Linked DNA regions of Homo sapiens. The protein of the gene in region 1 interacts with the protein of each later gene in a biochemical or structural test. Each region holds a gene or a part of one and is shown on either strand. Other genes may lie near its edges.

Region 1 (9,835 bases):
TTACAATATGTTAATGATCTATTAAATATTTAAAGCAATAGCTATAACCTATGTTGCCAGACTTTTGTTACAGACTGAACTAAGGATAAAGACAATTCATTTGAATGGAAGAAAAAAAAATAAGCTAAGTTAAAATAATTTAAGCATTATAGGATCTGGGAACATTCTATTCACTATCTCTAATGGCCTAGGAAATTGCTTACAAAAGCTTAAGGAAGAAAATGATCACCAACAAATCTTGGCCAAAGTAAAAGTAATTTGAAATTTATATGGAGTCTTTATATCCTATAACACCATAAAACGAAATAGCAATCTTAAGAGTTATTACCAAATTAAACTTACAAGATTTAAAAAGTCTAATTTTAAGATTAACAAAAGTAATAAATTTAAGTGGGTTTTGATTTTTTAAAGTGGGCTGTTATGACAAAGATTTAAAGCAGCTGGTAGAAATTAAGTATATTACTAATAGCACAATAAATTAATGATTCTAAGCACTGGCAAAAACAGTTTCTCCACATGAAATGTGAAAAACATATTTTAATACTACTGAGAAATCATTGCATTTAGCTCAAAATTTTAAAACTAATATTTGCTTTTTATCTTAGCTATCCCAAAATTAAATTGGTAGAGACTGTATAATTAGACTTCGTAAAAGGAAGTGAATACAACACAGGAAAAATGATCCTTTGCTTTTATGCCTTATATGCAAACAATGAGAATTAACTGGAAAAAACTTATTTTAAATTTTGCTAAAATGAAAATACCAAACCAACAGTGTTTCACTGAGTACATGATCAATAAAAATTAGTTGGCTTTACTGAACCACGATTTTTATAATCATTTTTTAAAAGTTAATACTTTTCTATGACATTAAGCCATCTTGTTGATTTACATTTCCAAAAATGTTTATACAAGCTGAGCAAAGTGGCTCACATCTGTAATCCCAGCACTTAAGGAGGCAGAGGCAGGAGGATTACCTGAAGCCAGGAGTTCTAAACCAGCCTGGTCAACAAGGCAAGATTCTGTCTCTACAAAAAATTTTAAAAATTAGCCAGGCGCAGTGGCATGTGCCAGGCATGGTGGTGCACGCCTGTAGTCCCAGCTACTCAGAAGGCTCAGGTTGGATAATTGCTTGAGCCAGGAGTTCGAAGTTGCAGTGAGCTATAATCCCACCACTGCACGCCAGCCTGGGTGACTGAGGAAGACCCTGTTTCTAAATAATAATAATAATAATAATTAATTAAATAAAAATTTTAAAAATGTTTATACAAAAACTGAGTTGGGACAGAAATTCAATAAATTTCTTTCTTTCTTTTTTTTTTTTTTTTTTTTTTTGAGAGGGAGTTTCACTCTTGTCGCCTGGAGTGCAATGGCATGATCTCGGTTCTCTGCAACCTCCACCTCCCGGGTTCAAGTGATTCTCCTGCCTCAGCCTTCCAAATAGGTGGGATTACAAGCATGTGCCACCAGGCCTGTCTAATTTTTTGTATTTTTAGGAGAGACAGGGTTTTACCATGTTGGCCAGGCTGGTCTCAAATTCCTGACCTCAAGTGATCCACCCCCCTCAGCCTCCCAAAGTGCTGGGATTACAGGCATGAGCCACCATGCCCAGCCAATTCAATAAATTTCTGACAAGACATATGAACATCAATAAGCCTAATTATGCCCTTTAAGTAAGTGGTGAGTTTACAGCACATGAGAAAATACCATAATGATAAATGAAATTAATATTATATTGAAGATTAGTAAAATGCATATGAATTAATCTCATTAACAAGCACAGACACTACTAGGATAAAGGTTAATTTCCAGGTAGAAAAAAAAACTAAAGAAAACCAGAGTGAGGCCAGGCATGGTGATTCACGCCTGTAAATCTCTGTAACTTTGGCAGGCTGAGGTGGGAGGATCCCTTGAGCCCAGGAGTTCAAGACCAGCCTGGGCAACATGGGGAGACCCCGTCTCTACAAATATAATAAAAAATATCAGCCAGAGGTTGGGCGCGGTGGCTCACGCCTGTAATCCCAGCACTTTGGGAGGCCGAAGTGGGCGGATCACAACGTCAGGAGATTGAGACCATCCTGGCTAACTCGGTGAAACCCCATCTCTACTAAAAATACAAAAAATTAGCCGGGCGTGGTGGCGAGTGCCTGTAGTCACAGCTACTCTGGAGGCTGAGGCAGGAGAATGGCGTGAACCTGGGAGGCGGAGCTTGCAGTGAGCCGATACAGCACCACTGCACTCCAGCCTGGGCAATGTAGCGAGACTCTGTCTCAAAAAAAAAAAAAAAAAAAATCAGCCGGGCATGGTGATGCACACCTAGAATCCCAGCATCTCAGAAGGCTCAGGTGGGATAATTGCTTGAGTCAGGAGTTTGAGGTTGCAGTGAGCCATGATCCCACCACTGCACTCCAGCCTGAGCAAGAGCAATACTCTGTCTCAAAACAAAAACCAGAAAAACTCTTATAATTAAAATGATTAATAAAAACATAGCTCTTGAAAAAAAGATAAAAACTAAAACCTGAGATTGTTACAGTTTTTAAATTATTTTCATGTGTATTATTTCAATTGACCCTTACCATAACCCTCTAAAATAAAGATGAAAAATATTATTTATCACATTTTACCCATAAGAACACTGAAGCTCCCTGGAAGTGACCAGCCAAAAGTTATAAACCAACCAACTGGCAGAGCCGAAGCCAAACACTCATTCCCATGGTTTTTTTTCTCACAATACCACACTACTTCTCCTTTATAATACTAATTATGTACAACACACATTGAGTCCCTACTATCTGCCAAGTTTGTGTTAGGTGCTTTACATATGTAATAACATGTAATCCTCCTAACAGCCCTATACAAAGTGGGTACTATTTTTGTCCTCCGATTTATAGGCCATTGAGACACTGACAAGGTAACTTACTTCCCTTACAGGTATCTAATAAACTGGGATTTGAATACTGATTTGACCAGAATCTTTATCATTCTATACTATCTTACAAAGATTAAATAATTATTAACCAAAAAATGGTATTAAATTATCACAACAGGCCTATTTAAAACAGTATTTTTTCTTTAGCTTATAATGAATACACATGCATATGTACACAGGTAAAATCTTACACAGGTAAAATCTTATGTTACAACAATTATTAAAACCAAAATATCTGCATAACAAAAATATTTCCAAGCTGCAGTTTACACCCTGATACTTTAAACAATATTCTAGGCCTGGCACTGTTGCTCATGCCTGTAATCCCAGGACTTTGGGAGGCCAAGGCAGGAGGATCACTTGAGCCCAGGAAGTCAAGGCTTCAGTAAGCTATGATCCTGCCACTGCACTCTAGCCTAGGCAACAGAGTGAGACCAGATCTCAAAAAAAATAATAATTTTAGAGACCATCTTGCTCTGTCGTCCAGACTGGAGTGCAATGGAGTGATCTCAGCTCATTGTGGCCTCTGTCTCCTGGGCTCAAGAAGTGATCCTTTTACCTCAGGCTCCCTGATATTTGGGACCACAGGTGCATGCCATCAGGCCTAGCTAATTTTTTTGGTAGGGACGGAGTTTTGCCATGTTACCCAGGCTGGTCTAAAACTCCTGGGCTCAATCTGCCAGCCTCAGCCTCCCAAAGTGCTGGGATTACAGGCATGAGCCACCATGCTCAGCCAAAAGAATTATTTTAAATAACAAAAACAATATTCAATGCCACAAAACTATAATGAAAAGCCTTAACATCAACTGTAATGGAAATTAAACTATTAATATACAACACATTTTGGCCAATTTTAAAGAAAGCACATAAAAGACCAGCTTAATTATCCACCATGAGTATACACCACTGAAAATAACTTATCCATTATTCTTTTGGCAAAGACCAGTTTACATTAGTTTATTTTCTCAACAGACACTTACTAGGCAGTTATATAACATTACCTCTACTCTTCAAAACAACTTTAAAAGTTAGGTATTACTCCAGGTAACAGAAAATTATAGAAAAAATTATAACACTAAATCTATCAATTATTTGTAAATCTTATTTAGAAAATATTTCCAAATTGTCAAATATTTAGATATTGGAAAAGAAGAAGCAATAATCAGACTGTCCTCCAATTTGAGATAAATGATTAGATGTATCCTGATGTATCAAAATGCAACATGGTACTTTCATTACTTGTTTGATAAACTACTCATTAAAAGATCATTTTTAAATGTACCCCACTGACCTGCAATGTACTTTCTTAAACACATTACTGTTATCAACTTTTATGATATTAGAAGATGCTATAATCAATTATTTTAGGGAGGAATATAAATCAGTTGAATTTCTTATGCATTGTATATGGTACAATGCCATCTATTGTAACTATGTATTAAATAAGCTGAACTTCCTGTTACTCAAAACTCAGGGGAAATAGCTCAAAGTATAAAGAACTGATAGTCTTTGATAATGATAAAATATCCCATATTTCATTCCAAATCAAGTCTATAGAATATAACATTTAAGATAACTTTCCAGTTTAATTGATCAGAAGTATCTTCACTTTGTTTAGGTTATTCTCAGTTTAGAAGTAAGAATATAGTACATCAAGCTGGACACAGTGGTGCATGCCTGTAGTCACAGCTATTAGGGAGGCTGAGGAGGGAGTATCTCTTGAGACTAGCTAGGAGTTCCAGGTCAGCCTGGGTAACTTAGTCTCAAAAAAACAAAAACAACACAGTGCATCTTATTTTTAAGTAGCAACTTTTAAGTTAATCACAAACCAAAAGAGCTGCTCGGTTAAAATAGACATAACTATCTGTAATATTTCTAACTATCTCTGAATAGGAAGAATTAAACCAAATCCAAATAATGTTTTGTTGCTGCCTGAAAGCGACAAAAATTACAGTGAAGGACTCAATTTTTAATCTACCAAGGTGAACGCAGATAACAAATAAGCTTTTAATTTCTCATGAAACCTAAGAACTCTAAGATAAGTTAAAGACATGCTTTAAAAGGTTACACTGAATACTTGTAAGTGGTTTGACACTCATATTTTTATTTAAAAAATTATTCTTTGATTTACTGCATTCATTTGTTGTGAATAGTCTTTTAAAATAAAAGAGGAATTGAAAATTAGCGAGAACATGCAACACCAAAGGCTAACACTAATATAAACTATGGACTCTGTGTGATTATGATGTGTCAATGTACATTCATTAATTGAAACAAATGTGCCACTCTTGGTAGGGGATGTTGATAATGGAGGATGCTATGCATTTGAAGGGGCAAGGGTACATGGAAAAATCTATGTATTTTCCTCTTAATTTTGCTGTGAACCTAAAACTGCTCTTTAAAAAGGCAGGAGAAAAATATTTAAGAAGTACACCAATAATCTTTAAAACAGGAGAAAGGCCTACATCTTCAATATGTACCCAATTCACATTTCACATTTAAATTGAATCAGAATGTCTTTGTAGGACTTAAATACATGAAAAAGAGTCTGAGAAATGCACCACCACTTGAAAATCAAAAGTATCTTTAGGGCTACATTAAGAAATCTTATAAAATTTTGTTTTATAATAAATGCCTGGCCAGGAGCGGTGGCTCACGCCTGTAATCCCAGCACTTTGGGAGGCCGAGGTGGGTGGATCATGAGGTCAGGAGATCGAGAGCATCCTGGCTAACACAGTGAAACCCCGTCTCTACTAAAAATACAAAAAATTAGCCGGGCGTGGTGGCGGGCGCCTGTAGTCCCAGCTACTCAGGAGGCTGAAGCAGGAGAATGGCGTGAACCCGGAAGGCGGAGTTGCAGTGAGCAGAGATCGCGCCACTGCACTCCAACCTGGGCGACAGAGCCAGATACTGTCTCAAGAAAAAAATTAAAAATAAAATGCCTTTAAATGTGATGTTATGATTAAACGGCCTTAAAGCACTCAGCTTGAGATTCTCTGAAAATGGTCAACTGGGCAATTCATCTTAAAAATCTGGTAGGTTATAAACCATTTTAAAAATATTAAAATACGTAACTCACTATACAAATGAGCTGCTTATGTTCACATTTTCAAGTTTCCAAGATGTCTAATTTTTTTTAATTGGCATTTTAAGCAGCCCAGAGAATAACAATAATCACACATATTCTTCATGTGAAAAATGATTTTATGCTTAACTATAACAAAACTAAACATGGTTAATTAATTAGCAATGAAATATTACGAAAAGCCCTTAAAAATGAATATACTGAAATAAATTTGTTTTCCTACATTGTATAATTAATTAAATACATAAGAACTCTATATTAGATCAATTGATTGAACTATGTGTAAGAAATTTTTCATATATTTAAGCACTAGTCATCTCTAAATGTTTTCATATCTCATACTGTTAATGCTTTAACTCAGTAACAATAATGATTTTATTTTTTCTATTTCCATTACTCCTTGAGATATTTTTGAAGCAAAGGAACATAAAATATATAAAGCCTTTCTAATGTGGGCATTTGAATTATCCATAAAGATCAAAATCTAATTCAAAAATAAAGACCATAAGAAGAAAACACCAATACTTGTAAGGTAAATGAAGATGAATAAAGGTAAATTATTAATAAATATTTAGGCCTACTGAGTAATGGTAGCTAAATTGCAGTCATTTTGAAATTACTCTTTCTCTTTGAGAAAAAAAGAGATACATACATTATGCATACATTATGAAATAAATGAAATACATTTATGTAAACAATTGTATCATATTTGATGGCAAGGAATGCCAAGTATATATACACCCAATATGTGAAGTATTATTAAGCACATAAGCTGAGGAGAGAGTAATAAGGAGAATGTATTCTACACCTTCCCAGAACAAAATCAAATTCAAATGATCATTTCATCTTATTAGGTAAGATAATGACTTTGGAAATAAATATCAAAATCTATAGAAAAACCTATATAACAAACATCAACAGGTAGTTATTAGGTTAACGTTGCCCTTCTCCAAAAGAGATCTAATATTTAATTACCATTCTATTCCTCTAAAGTACCATCAAATATTTAAGTCTTATTAAAAACTTTTAACATTTCAAAAAACTGCCAGTAACATTTTCCAGGTAATGTAAATGTTATCCTACAATCTAACTGTGATTTTAAAAAACATAAGAAACTGGTAAGAGTATTAATTACTTGCACTTACAAAATAATCATATTCTGATTTATGAAATCACCTTAGTAAAAATTTAGACTTAAAGCCGGGCGCGGTGGCTCACGCCTGTAATCCCAGCACTTTGGGAGGGGGAGGCAGGCAGATCACAAGGTCAGGAGCTCGTGACTAGCCTGGCCAACATAGTGAAACCCCATCTCTACTAAAAATACAAAAAATTAGCTAGGCGTGGTGGCGGGCACCTGTAATCCCAGCTACTCAGGAGGCTGAGGCAGAAGAATCGCTTGAACTCGTGAGGTGGAGGTTGCAGTGAGCCGAGATCTCACCACTGCACTCCAGCCCGGGTGACAGTGTGAGACTCCACCTCAAAAAAAAAATAAAAGAATTTAGACGTAACAAATTTGTATTAACCACGTATATCCTTACTTCATTTGAAACAAATCTGTGTTTGTATTACTCGAGAAATTCTTAAATATATTTAAAAATAAAATCATCAAAATTGTCCTATTTTATTAAACATTTTTTAAAAACTTCAACAGTGAGATATGACAAAATTCACAAATATAATACTTACATATTTTGTTAATTTTTTAAAAATAAAATATTCATTATTGAACTATATCAATGTTTCACAATTAACATGGGTCAGAATATATATTTTCACATCATAAAAATATGATTATTTAAATTACAAATTAACATTAGAAAATCAAATGAAGACTGTCATTTTAAACCATCAATGGTTACATACCATCCTCAAATAGCAGAATCTCACAGCATTTATCAACATGTCTAAAGAGAGACTAAAGAGAGACAAAGTACAGCACCTAGGCATGTGTTTCTTTTTGAGGATTTGGTGACATCACAGGAACTACAAGAAAGTTTGATGGTATTACTGCCAATAAATTTTAAGTAGAGTTATGTAACTATAAATATACATAACTACAAATACACAGCTCAATTTTAAAACACACACATATATATATTCTCTTTATTTTGAAGCAACTGAATATGTTTTGATATGCTGTTACATGCAATCAATATTTTTAAGAGAAAAAGTATCCTAGGTTCCTCAGCATAAATTTTTATGTATTTATTAAGGACACAAATAATTTGTTTTTTATTTCTCCAAATATACATTATTAAAAATGTTTCAGAATACTTCAAAAAAAAAATCCAGTGACACATGTACTTCCAAACACTTCAAAAAAAACTATGTCATATATTTTAAAAATTTTGAGTAGACATAGGTCCAGTTGAACATTTAAAATTCCTAATCACCTATGATACATATCCTTTCACAACAAAATAGTACATAGACATAAAACCTGGTATGTTTTCAAAAATGCTTATAAAACTAAAAAGGCCTCTAAAATAATAATAAAAATGTTTTTTAAAATTCTATGAAATCGTCTTGAATTGCAACCTTATTCCATAAGTGATGCACACATAATACCTGTATCATTTACAACCATCTGTTACTTGTAGTTGCTTAGCTAACATCAGTAGGATTCCTGCCTTCTTCAAAACAATTATTCATACAATTTATATACAATTTATGTATATTACAATATAAGAAACCTCTTTAACTAGGCATCATTTAATACTGTCCTTTTAATATATACATGAACTGTATGTATATACTACTGTATGTAACTGAATATTAAGTCAACTATTTAAAAATCAATGTTTATAGTATAGAAACAGCTATATATTTAAAAAACTTCAGCAGCTACATGTTTTAATTCAGTGAATAGAGGAATGTTTATCAATATATAATCATTAAATAGTATAAACACAAATGTCTTGTTGTTCTAAACATTAACATTGGTTAATAAAATATCTTAACATTTGATGAATATTTTAGAAGGTAAACATAGAAAATCAAATTATAAAAAGGCGTGACCAGACAAAGAAGGGTTATTTTTTTCATTCATCTATAAAACAAATTTATGAGATCATAAAAAACAATTTAACAACCTAAAGAAGGTTCAAAGGTGGAAGAAAGAGCCTGAGAGAAAATGGATTTGTCTATGATTTTTGTCATCCAGTCTTAGAGGGGAAAAAACAGAAAATGTAGCTTCATTTTGCACTATAAAATAGGAAGCATAAAATCCAGTAGTCTGTATGTGGACTTGTATTTGTGTACTTAAACCCTGTTTCAATTCACAGATTATGCTGATCCTTCCACATATAAACAGCCAATAATGATGGCCAGGCCTTCAGGAAAGGAAAACACACACCACACAGCAAGGTCAGGAAGCTACCAAGCACCACAGGACAACAGATCAAAACAGAATGGTTTCATATGTTTCTATTGTTTATATATTTAATTTGAAGATGATATTCCTTAGGGAAGGGGGTATAAATATTACTAGGAACATGCAACACAGTATCAAATATATACTTTTCAAGCAAATATACCAAATATTTCACCCATGTATCTGTCAGTCAATCTGTAGTATTAACAGCCTTTCATTCAATTCTTTTTAACTTAGATTATCATGCCAAAATAAACCTCTTTAGTCGTAAACCTCTTTATTTCTAACTACAGAAAATTTATATTTACCTTTTTTTGAGGAAACAACCGGCTTCCATAAAAGTATCTTTTTTACTATAAAGGGATTAAGCAGTAGAGAGGAGTAAAGGCAGAAGTATTAATTCATTATTTCCTGGGTAAAATTTTGAAAATGGGAAGCAATGAAATTC
Region 2 (9,835 bases), on another chromosome or scaffold:
TAGGTGTGTGTGTTTGTGTAGACGTGGCCTGCTCCTGCTCTTGTGGGCACACCAGAGGCCTCCCAACGTGCTGAGAAGGCGCTCCTTTATTTTCAGATTTTTGTTTGGAAAACTCATAGATTGTTGCCTTTAAAATGGGGCGTGAGCCCGGAAGAGATGGTTGTGTGGGTGAGTGCGTGGAGTTTGTGTGCCTCCGTAGACCTGGTTTCCACGTGCGCACTTGTGAGGGGAAGACTGGTTTTTTTGTTGTTGGGACAGCATGGCAGTCCTTGCCTCCTTATGTTGGGTAAGAGTGGGAGCGTCTGTGGATCTTTGAGGGCCAAGGGCCCCCAGTCTTAAGCCCTTCTCTCTCTGCGGCTGCTTCCTATATTGTTTAAAATGCGTGTTCTGGCCCCTGAATTCTCCTAGCGTGAAATCGCCGTTCGTGGGCCCACGGCTGCACCCCGAGATAGAAGCGGAATAAAGGGACGACGTTACCTTCACCAGCCTGAGTCTCTTGGGCCGCGCCCGCCTGCCCCGACTCCAAGCCCTACAGGAACCGGTTTCCCTGGTTAGGAGGTATCCACCCGGCTCAACCAGGGTCTCGACTTCCTTGGAAAAGACCAAGGCAGCCGTACGCTGCTGGAACGCCGGAGTGCAAAGGCTTTTAGGGCTACATTGCAACCCTCGGGCTCGATTTCGCCCTTTGGGCTGTCGAGTAAACATTTGCTTTTCACACAGTGTGACCCCTTTCTCCTTTCCACTTTGGTATTATGCGAGTGTCGTCTTCTCCCCCGAACCCAATGAAGGCAGGCCAAAAGTCTTGAGAAGCGGGCTCTTGCCGAGGGGGTCGGTAACTTAGGCGATCTACCTGTAGACCGGTAAGAGAGGGTGTGGGTGAAAGTCTTGACTTAGAGCGTAAGCTGGAGACTGCAGAGGCTTTAAAAGCCATAGTGGGGGTCGTGGCCTGTGTGAGCTGGAGAGTGGGTACCGAGCACCGCAAAGGTGAGCCCAGCGCCGCTGCCTTTTCCACTCCTAACCTGTTATTTGGGGAGGAGGGCGGAGCTATTGCCTGATGGCCTTTAGCTGGCTTCTCCTGTTGGAAAAAAGTTGAAATTCTAATCTACTTGTTGTAGGCATCTCCTTTTAAAAGGTTTCTTCTAGGTAAGAAGCTAGGGGGCAGTTATCTTTTTTTTCCGTTTTTAAACTTTGAATGGACTCCTAGTTTTAATATACTGTGGGTTCATGTTCTTTCATCACTTTTAGAAAAATGAGTGATTGAGGTAAATACCGATCCAAATCCCAGGAACAGAAAAATGGAGCCAATTCACTTGCAGTTTGGGATCAAATGCAGGGTGAGCAGAATGGGGTTGAATCCAGGAGTTTCCCCTTCTGAGAGGTGCTTTTAGTTTAAATGTCAGTTTATATTTCCAGTTAAAGATACACCTATATTTTATTTGGGCTGAAACAGTAGATGCTCAGTGTTGGCAGACTTGTAAAAGATTTATTCACTTTTAAAATTAGAAAACCCTTCAAACTGCATTGGGGAGTGTGAATTGAGAAGTGAAGCTCTCCACTCACCCTGGGAGGTACTCGGAAGCTCTTCAAATTCACTTTTTAGCATGTGCAATGTCAGGTTGAAGTAACTAATAATCCTTAACATAAAATTTGCTCAGTTTTGAGCAAGATTCTGCTTGCTCCCTTTAGCTTTTCATTAAAAACATTTCGGAAGTTGTTTGGCCTTTTTATTCATTCCTGGATTTAGAACGCTAGAAATTTGAGATTAAAGGTGACAAACCAGTGTTCTGAGTAGAAGACTAAAGTGTTAGGAGAGACAGCACTAACAGGTAGTGAGGTTCATAAACGGTTCCACCTACAGCTTAAATAATTCCTTTTCTTTTGATCTCGTTAACAGTTTGAGAATATTGTTCCTTTAAAAAGTCATCCCTCTCTGGCTGGGAAGGAGCTTTAGGACATTTTTGGAGGATGATAGACTGACCCATATCTGGACTGCGATACACTGAATGCCTAAATCCACATATTTTAATGTGTATACTGTCTACCTCAATTTTTAAGATGAGCTCCTTAACTGAGTTGCTTCCCTTGTCCACAGGCTCCGTTAAATAATTCAGAGTAGCACCTTTTCCTTATAGTGACTCAGGCCACCTGACCTTGGGAAGGAGGCCCAAACACCCTACCCCAGCCTGCAGGGTCTCTCGCCCAGGGGGACTTTCTTCCTTAAGCATCCCCTTGTAAAATGCCTTCTTAGGATTGGCAAGTAAGGTGTCTCGTCTGAGCAATTGGCTTTAAACCGTAATGATGATAACCTGGAAATCTTTGGGTTTTCCAACGAAATAATGAGACGTACTTGCTGCTACTCTTTTATTTTGGCTTATTTCAACAACATAGTTGGGGCTTTTCACTAGTTCTGTGCCTCCAGAGTCCGAAAGGCCTGCAGGCTCCGTGGCCCAGCCGGCATCCGGGCGGGGAATCCAAGGCGAGGAATCCGAGGTCGCCGTCCCCGGAACAGCTGGCCGCGGGCCCGCTGCGTGCCGCGGGTCCCGGGAGAGGCGGGCGCAGGTAGAGTCGCCGCGGGCCTGCGCCGCCGCCCGGCCAGCCCGGAGCCTGCCTCGGCTCTGGGGACGTGGCCTGGCCGGCGGCTGCTCTTCTCCCCGCAGGCACCCGCTGGGGTATTCACGGCCGCTCTGGTCATGGAGTAGGGTCTTCGCTTGAGTTTTGGGGGAAGAGTTTCACAACTAGGGAGTTGTGAGCGCTGCTCCAGCTGCTCACAAGTGACCCTTTAGTGTTGTTTTGCTTTTGGCACATAGAACGTGAGCCCTTTGCAGCCTTGGAGGCGACACCGGCAGCAGAAATGCTGGGTGTGTTGTGTGCCTAAGCTGGGCGTCAGGATTCTGTGAATGGCGGGAAGTTGAGCAGGGTTTGAACCCAGGAAAGCCTCTGTCACTAGCGGTGAGGGGCAGTGGGGGTGACATTGTTGCCACCTGGAAAACATTGTAGCCCGCCCCACCCGAGGATGGCAATATTGTTCCCAGTTAGGCAGGTCTGGGGGTGGCGTTTTCTGGAGTCTGGTTGGAAAAAGGGGTGCAGGTGTTGGTAGAATCCATGCGGTCCCTGTGTTGGGCTTTAAAATGCCTCCTGAAGAGAAAAGTTCTAGAATTCCAACTTGATTTGACCCTGAACATTGAGCACTCCTGGGACTGTCTCCTGGCAGGAAACTTAAAGTGGCTTCAGTCACTTGGAACAAGGAGGTTTGCTGCCTAAAATAATCGGTTGCTGTGTGAATTTGTTTTGTATATTTTAAGTCATATTGTAAATGGGACTGTACCTGTATTCAGCACCAGTGTATATTATTCTCTGTTCCCAAAGTCTAAGTTTTTTCAGGTCTGCATATACTCAGTGTATGCATGCTTATTTTAAATTATATTCATGTTCTTGCATAAATTATAAAATCCATACCAAAATATTTTTAAAAGCATAATACAAATTTTCCCACTTACACTGCATGTCGAAGTAATTCTCTTTTTAAGGGTGTGAAATGTAGGTATAGCTAAAGAACCACTTTCCTATCTTTTCCGTCTTTAGAGGCGATCAGATGTAACTAAGTTGGTGAAATTTATGATAAACTTTGAGAATTTCTACAAGAAATTGGCATTTTAATTGGAATCCGATTGATTCATATTAATTTCAACAAATTTTTAAAAAAAATTTTTTTAAAGGAAGGACAAGGAGAGAAAGTGAACAGAAATGGGTATTCTAGTATTTCTGTTACCTGCTTTCAACCTGCTCTACACTACTGGGTGAATATGTCCTCTGAGTGCAGACATCTCACCTACTGGCTGGAAAACCAAACCTAACTGCCTTGAAAATAATTACAGAGGTTGCTGCTTTGAATCCAGTTCAGCAGGTAGACATTAGGAAGCCTACTGAATTCAGAAAATGCTTGATAAAAATATATGGGAGGGAAATGTTCGTTATTGATATGTTAATTGCTTAGCCTTTGTGGGCTTAAGGTAGTTCCATTAAAGTGCATAGGAATGGATTTTTCAACATGGACCCTCAGGAAGTGGGCCACAGCTAGTTTGGCAAGCCTGTGCTGATGAGGTTGCCTTGAAGGCATAACCTGTCATAAACTGTGCTAGTAGTATGGAGGCTGTTGTGGTATCAGCACTGTCTGGGAAACCTTTTGTGATTATTTGTTCAGTTTCCTTCCTTTACAAAGATAAACTATAGTGGTTTTAGTGGTTTGGGGATTGCATAGATTTGATACAAGATTTTTATTTCCAATTCTAGGAATATACATTTTGGAAGACAAGATATTTGGGGAAAAAAACGTTACTTTTTCTAGACTTCCAGTTCTTCATTTGACAACGGTATTTGTTCTTTATCATTGACATTGTTTTCAAAGTGAAATAGTTGTACTTGAAATGGGGAAACCCAGGAGGCGGAGGTTGCAGTGAGCCGAGGGTGCAGTGAGCCGAGATCATGCCATTGCACTCCAGCCTGGGTGACGGAGCGAGACTATCTAAAAAGATACAGGGAAATCTTCCTAAAAGTGTTTGAAGAGGGTCAGGCGTGAGCCACCGCGCCTTTGGGAGGCCGAGGCGGGCGGATCACGAGGTCAAGAGATCGAGACCATCCTGGCCAACATGGTGAAACCCTGTCTCTACTAAAAATACAACAAAAATTAGCCAGGCGTGGTGGCGCGTGCCTGTAGTCCCAGCTACCCAGGAGGCTGAGGCAGGAGCATTGCTTGAACTGGGGAGGCGGAGGCCGCAGTGATCCGAGATCGTGCCGCTGCACTCCAACCTGGGCAACAGTGAGACTTGTCTCAAAAAAAGAAAAAAAAAAGTGTTTGAAGATTAGGTAAAAATTGCCATTTCCCATCTAGTTCTCCCTCCCATTGTATTATAGCTACTTACTTAATACTTTTATTTAGTCCTTTTGTTTTTTTCTGAGATGGAGTTTCACTCTTGTTATCCAGGCTGGAGTGCGGTGGTGCAGTCTTGGCTCACTACAACCTCCACCTCACGGGTTCAAGTGATTCTCCTGCCTCAGCCTCCCAAGTAACGGGGATTACAGGCGCTCGTCACCTTGTCCGGCTAATTTTTTTTCTTTCTTTTTTTTTTTTTTAAGTAGAGACGGGGTTTCACCATATTGGCCAGGCTTGTCTCTAACTCCTGACCTCAGGTGATCCACCTGCCTCGGCTTCCCAAAGGGCTGGGATTGATTACAGGCAAGAGCCACCGCGCCTGGCCCTAGTCCTTTTCTTAAGGCTGAGTCTCACTCATCCCAGGCTGGAGTGCAGTTGTACAGCTCCTTAAAGCCTTGACTTCTCAGGCTTAAGAGATCCTCCTGCCTGTGTCTCTCAAGTAGCTGGGACTACAGGCTCTAGCCATCACACCTGGCTAATTTTTGTAATTTTTGTGGAGATGGCGTTTCGCCATGTTGCCCAGGCTGGTCTCAAACTCCCAAGGTCAAGCGACCTGCCTACCTAGGCCTCCCAAAATGCTGGGATTTCAGTCATGAGCCACCTCGCTGGGCTAGATAGTCCTTTTCTTTTCTTTTTTTCTTGAGATGGAGTCTCGCTGTGTCACCCAGGCTGGAGTTCAGTGGCGCGATCTTGGCTCACTGCAACCTCCGCCTCCCTGGTTCAAGCAATTCTTCAGCCTCAGCCTCCCAAGTAGCTGGGACTACAGTCATGTGCCACCATGCCTGGCTAATTTTTGTATTTTTAGTGGAGACGGTGTTTCACCATGTTGGCCAGGCTGGTCTTGAGCTCCTGACCTCAAGGTGATCTGCCTAACTCGACCTCCCAAAGTGCTGGGATTCAGGTGTGAGCCACTGTGCCTGGCCCTTAGGTAGTCCTTTTCTAGAAGGATCTCAGGAGGCTTAAATGTCTAGTTTCCTCAAGTACTACTTAATATGGATGCAACTTTCTCCTCACATGTAAAATTATGAGCATAATTGGGCTTTATGTCTTTTCACTGAAAAAAGGAACTAATAATCGTGCATATATAGTAAGGGAGTTAGCTCTTGTGGAAGCTGTCAATGAAGTTAAATGGCTAAAACGCTTTTTTTTAAGTGGTTTGCCAGGGTAAAACGTGTTTATAAATTTTTCTGGTTCAAGAGAAATTTTCATTAAATAATTCTGTAGCTCTAAAATTTAACCCCCTCTGAGTTATTTCTGGTGCTAAAAGTCACATGGTTTGCCATTTCTCCATCCAGTTCTCTACACAGGGCAAGGTTTATTTTGTCTGTGTTCATTCTTAGCAAATAAAGGACCATTTCAGTGTCATTTTTGACAGGCAAAAGGGTGAGATGAATTCTATACTATGCAGGCAGTTTCAAAATACTGCTTCCCCCCTTCTCCCACTCCCACCCATAAAACTAATAAAGGTTAAAGGCCTGGCTCACTAAGGCTGTTTTTGCTATCTCTGACATTTTGGAAGCGAGCAAGAGAAAGATAATGATAAAGAATTACAGTTGCCTTAAGGGAGCAAGATGCCACCCATTGAAGCCTACTCCGTTACCGCTTTTCTTCTTGACCTTTCAAGCATTGTGGCTTGCAAGAGTAAGCTTGATCCATCTTTCCTCTAAAGCTGATGTGACCTCCTGCTTGTTCAATACTAAATTATTCCCCTCCTTTTGAGGTTTTGTCTATACTCACAAACTGAGTTGACTGAAACCAGATTGACTGTTTTGATTGACAAGACTCTGACTTGTCAACCTAAAAAGTGGGAGGAGTAGGGGGCCTAGTGGTGTCCCTTTACATTTGAAACTGTTTGACTTAAACGATATTCCAAAGTAAATCTTTGCCTCTCCCATGCCATCTCTTGCCTTCCTCATGCTGTAGATAAATGCAGTTTGCTTACAACTGGCTTTGAAGGTGGTAGAATGAAATGAAATGGGGGAAGATCCCACTCAACTCCCATCCAGGCAGGGTGCGGTGGCTTACGCCTGCAATCCCAGCACTTTGGGAGGCTGACGTGGGCAGATCACATAAGGCCCAGAGTTCGAGACCAGCCTACCAACATGGTGAAACCCCATCTCTACTCAAAATACAAAAATTAGCCGGACGAATCCCAGCTACTGAGGCTGAGGCAGGAGAATCACTTGAGCGTGGGAGGCGGAGGTTGCAGTGGGCCAGGATCATGCTATTGCACTCCAGTCTGGGCGATAGAACAAGACTATGTCTCACAAACAAACTCCCATCCAAACCTGAGTTTTAGAGATACTCATATTAGACTTAGGCTAATAGTTTTTTTTGTCATCCTTACTGTAGATTTTCTACTAATCCTAGATGGTTCCTAACCAGAACTTTAATTCCCATCAGGTGAGTTCTTTTTTTTTTTTTTTTTTTTTTGAGAGGGAGCTCTGTCACCCAGGCTGGAGTGTAGTGGCACCATGTTGGTCAGGCTGGTCTCAAACTCCTGACCTCAAATGGTCCACCCACCTTGGCCTCCCAAAGTGCTGGGATTACAGGTGTGAGCCACCACACCCGGTCAGGTGAGTTTTGTGTTTTGTTTGTTTTTTTGAGACGGAGTCTTGCTCTGTCCTGTCCCTGAGGCTGGAGTGCAGTGGTGCGAACTCAGCTCACTGCAAGCTCTGCCTCCTGGGTTCACGCCATCCTCCTGCCTCAGCCTTCCCAGTAGCTGGGACTACAGGTGCCTGCCACCATGCCCGGCTAATTGTTTTTGTATTTTTAGTAGAGACGGGGTTTCACTGTGTTAGCCAGGATGGTCTTGATCTCCTGACCTCATGATCCACCCGCCTCGGCCTCCCAAAGTGCTGGTATTAACAGGCATGAGCCACCGCGCCCGGGCTATGAGTTTGTTTTTAGTGAAGCTATAAATTATCAGTTGGCACAAAAAATTAGCAGTCAGTTGTATTTCACTCAAAAACAATTTTCCACATAGAAGTAGTAGTCTTTAGCAATAAAAATACTGTTTTCAGTAATTATGTTAGCATATTGAAGTTGTGATTATTGGGAATGAGGTCCTTTGTCATGAAGGGTAGGGGGATAATTCTTTTTTTTTTTTTTGGGTGGAGTCTCACTCTGTTGCCTAGGCTGGAGTGTAATGGTGTGATCTCGGCTCCTTGTACCTTCTGCCTCCTGGGTTCAAGCGATTCTCCTGCCTCGTCTCACGAGTAGCTGGGATCACAGGCATGCACCACCATGCCTGACTAATTTTGTATTTTTAGTAGAGATGGGGTTTTGCCATATTGGCCAGGCTGGTCTCGAACTCCTGACCTCAGGTGATCTGCCGCCTCAGCCTCCCAAAGTGCTGGGATTACAGGCGTGAGCCACCGCGCCTTGCAAGGGGGGATAATTCTTGATTGTGATCATTTATCTATAAGAGCTTCTGCAGAATAGCACATTTTGTCAACATTAATAGGTTTTAAAGCAGAGCAGTGGGCACAAAAAAGAATAAAGTGGGTGCAGATCAGTTGTGTAGACTGAGGACATACCCTCCTGGTTCTGACACCCTGTGAATTCCAGGGGCCCTTGAATGGACCTTGGAGCCTGAGTGGTCAATCAGGTCAGGCGCCTCTGAGAATGAGAGCCTTTGTAAACATCTGTTGGCTGCTGCATCCTGTAGCTGTTACTTCTGGAAAGTTTGGCCAGCCATTTTCTTCTCGTCTTAACCTTTTGCAGTTAAAATGTTTTTCTTGAAATGCCAGTGGATTTGGGGAAGTCGTTTCATACTCTTTTGGGACTAATTGGGATAATTATTAAAATGCTGTTGTATAAAAAATCTGCACTTAAGTTTTGCTGCTAAATATAGATTGGATGACTACTTAAGCACTGGTGTTTTAGAAATGAGAATTGTGAATGAGTGGCATCAGCAGCCATTATTACCATGTATTGGACACTTAAAGGAATTCAGGAGTTTAGATCATATATCTCCACATTTTGGTCTGTGCCCTCCGAGATCAGTGTCAAAGGGAGATATTTCTATTACTTAGGATTATCAATAGATTTGTACTGAAAATGCTTCCAGAAATGTTGTAGATAAGCATTGAGCAGGAGAGTAGAAAGTTTAGGTAACAGTTGGAAAAATGTAAGACTCCTGATAGGCAGTCTTAATCAAGTGTCTATTATTTGGCTTTGCTTGAGCACTCTGATTCTAGGTTAGATTCTGCTTTGCCTCAGTTTTTGCATCTGTAAAATGAGGGTAACTCTTTGCGGTGTTGTAAGGAGTAGAGCTGAAATATAAAGTCTCATAGCACAGTGCCCTACAATTGAAGGCAATTGTAAACTTTTTTTTTTTTTTTTTTTTTTTGAGATGGAGTCTTGCTCTGTCACCCAGGCTGGAGTGCAGTGGTGCAATCACAGCTTACTGCTGTCTCAACCTTCCCGGCTCAAGTGATCCTCCCACCTCTGCCTTCTGAGAAGGTGCATGCCACGATGCCCGGCTAATTAAAAAAAATTCTTTTTGTAGAGACTGGGTTGCACCATGTTGCCCAGGCTTGTGTCTGACCCTTGGGCTCAAGCCACCCTCCTGCCTGTCCTCCCAAAGTGCTGGGATTACAGGCGTGAGCCACCTCATCTGGCCCCAATTTACATTTTATATGACATGTTTGAAAACCACTAATTTTTCTTATAATTTTTTTGTAGAGACAGGGTTCTCACTTTGTTGCCCAGTTCACTGATCTTGAACTCTTGGCCTCAAGTGATAGCAATCCTCCTATGTCAGTCTCCTAGAGTACTGGGGTTACAGGCATGAGCCACTGTCCCCCACTAGAAAGCACTAATTTTTTTTTTTTTTGACACGGACTTTCCCTCTGTCGCCCAGGCTGGAGTGCAGTGATGTGATCTCGGCTCACTGCAACC

The links.
Region 2: the proteins of LIN28B (region 1) and TRIM71 form a complex in vitro, tested with the Homo sapiens proteins (one study listed by BioGRID).

Annotation. Positions count from the first base shown.
Region 1 is NC_000006.12:104,959,077-104,968,911, reverse strand, and holds part of LIN28B (protein lin-28 homolog B), read right to left. Parts: intron 1-9,835. UniProt on the Homo sapiens protein: Suppressor of microRNA (miRNA) biogenesis, including that of let-7 and possibly of miR107, miR-143 and miR-200c.
Region 2 is NC_000003.12:32,819,242-32,829,076, forward strand, and holds part of TRIM71 (E3 ubiquitin-protein ligase TRIM71), read left to right. Parts: intron 1-9,835.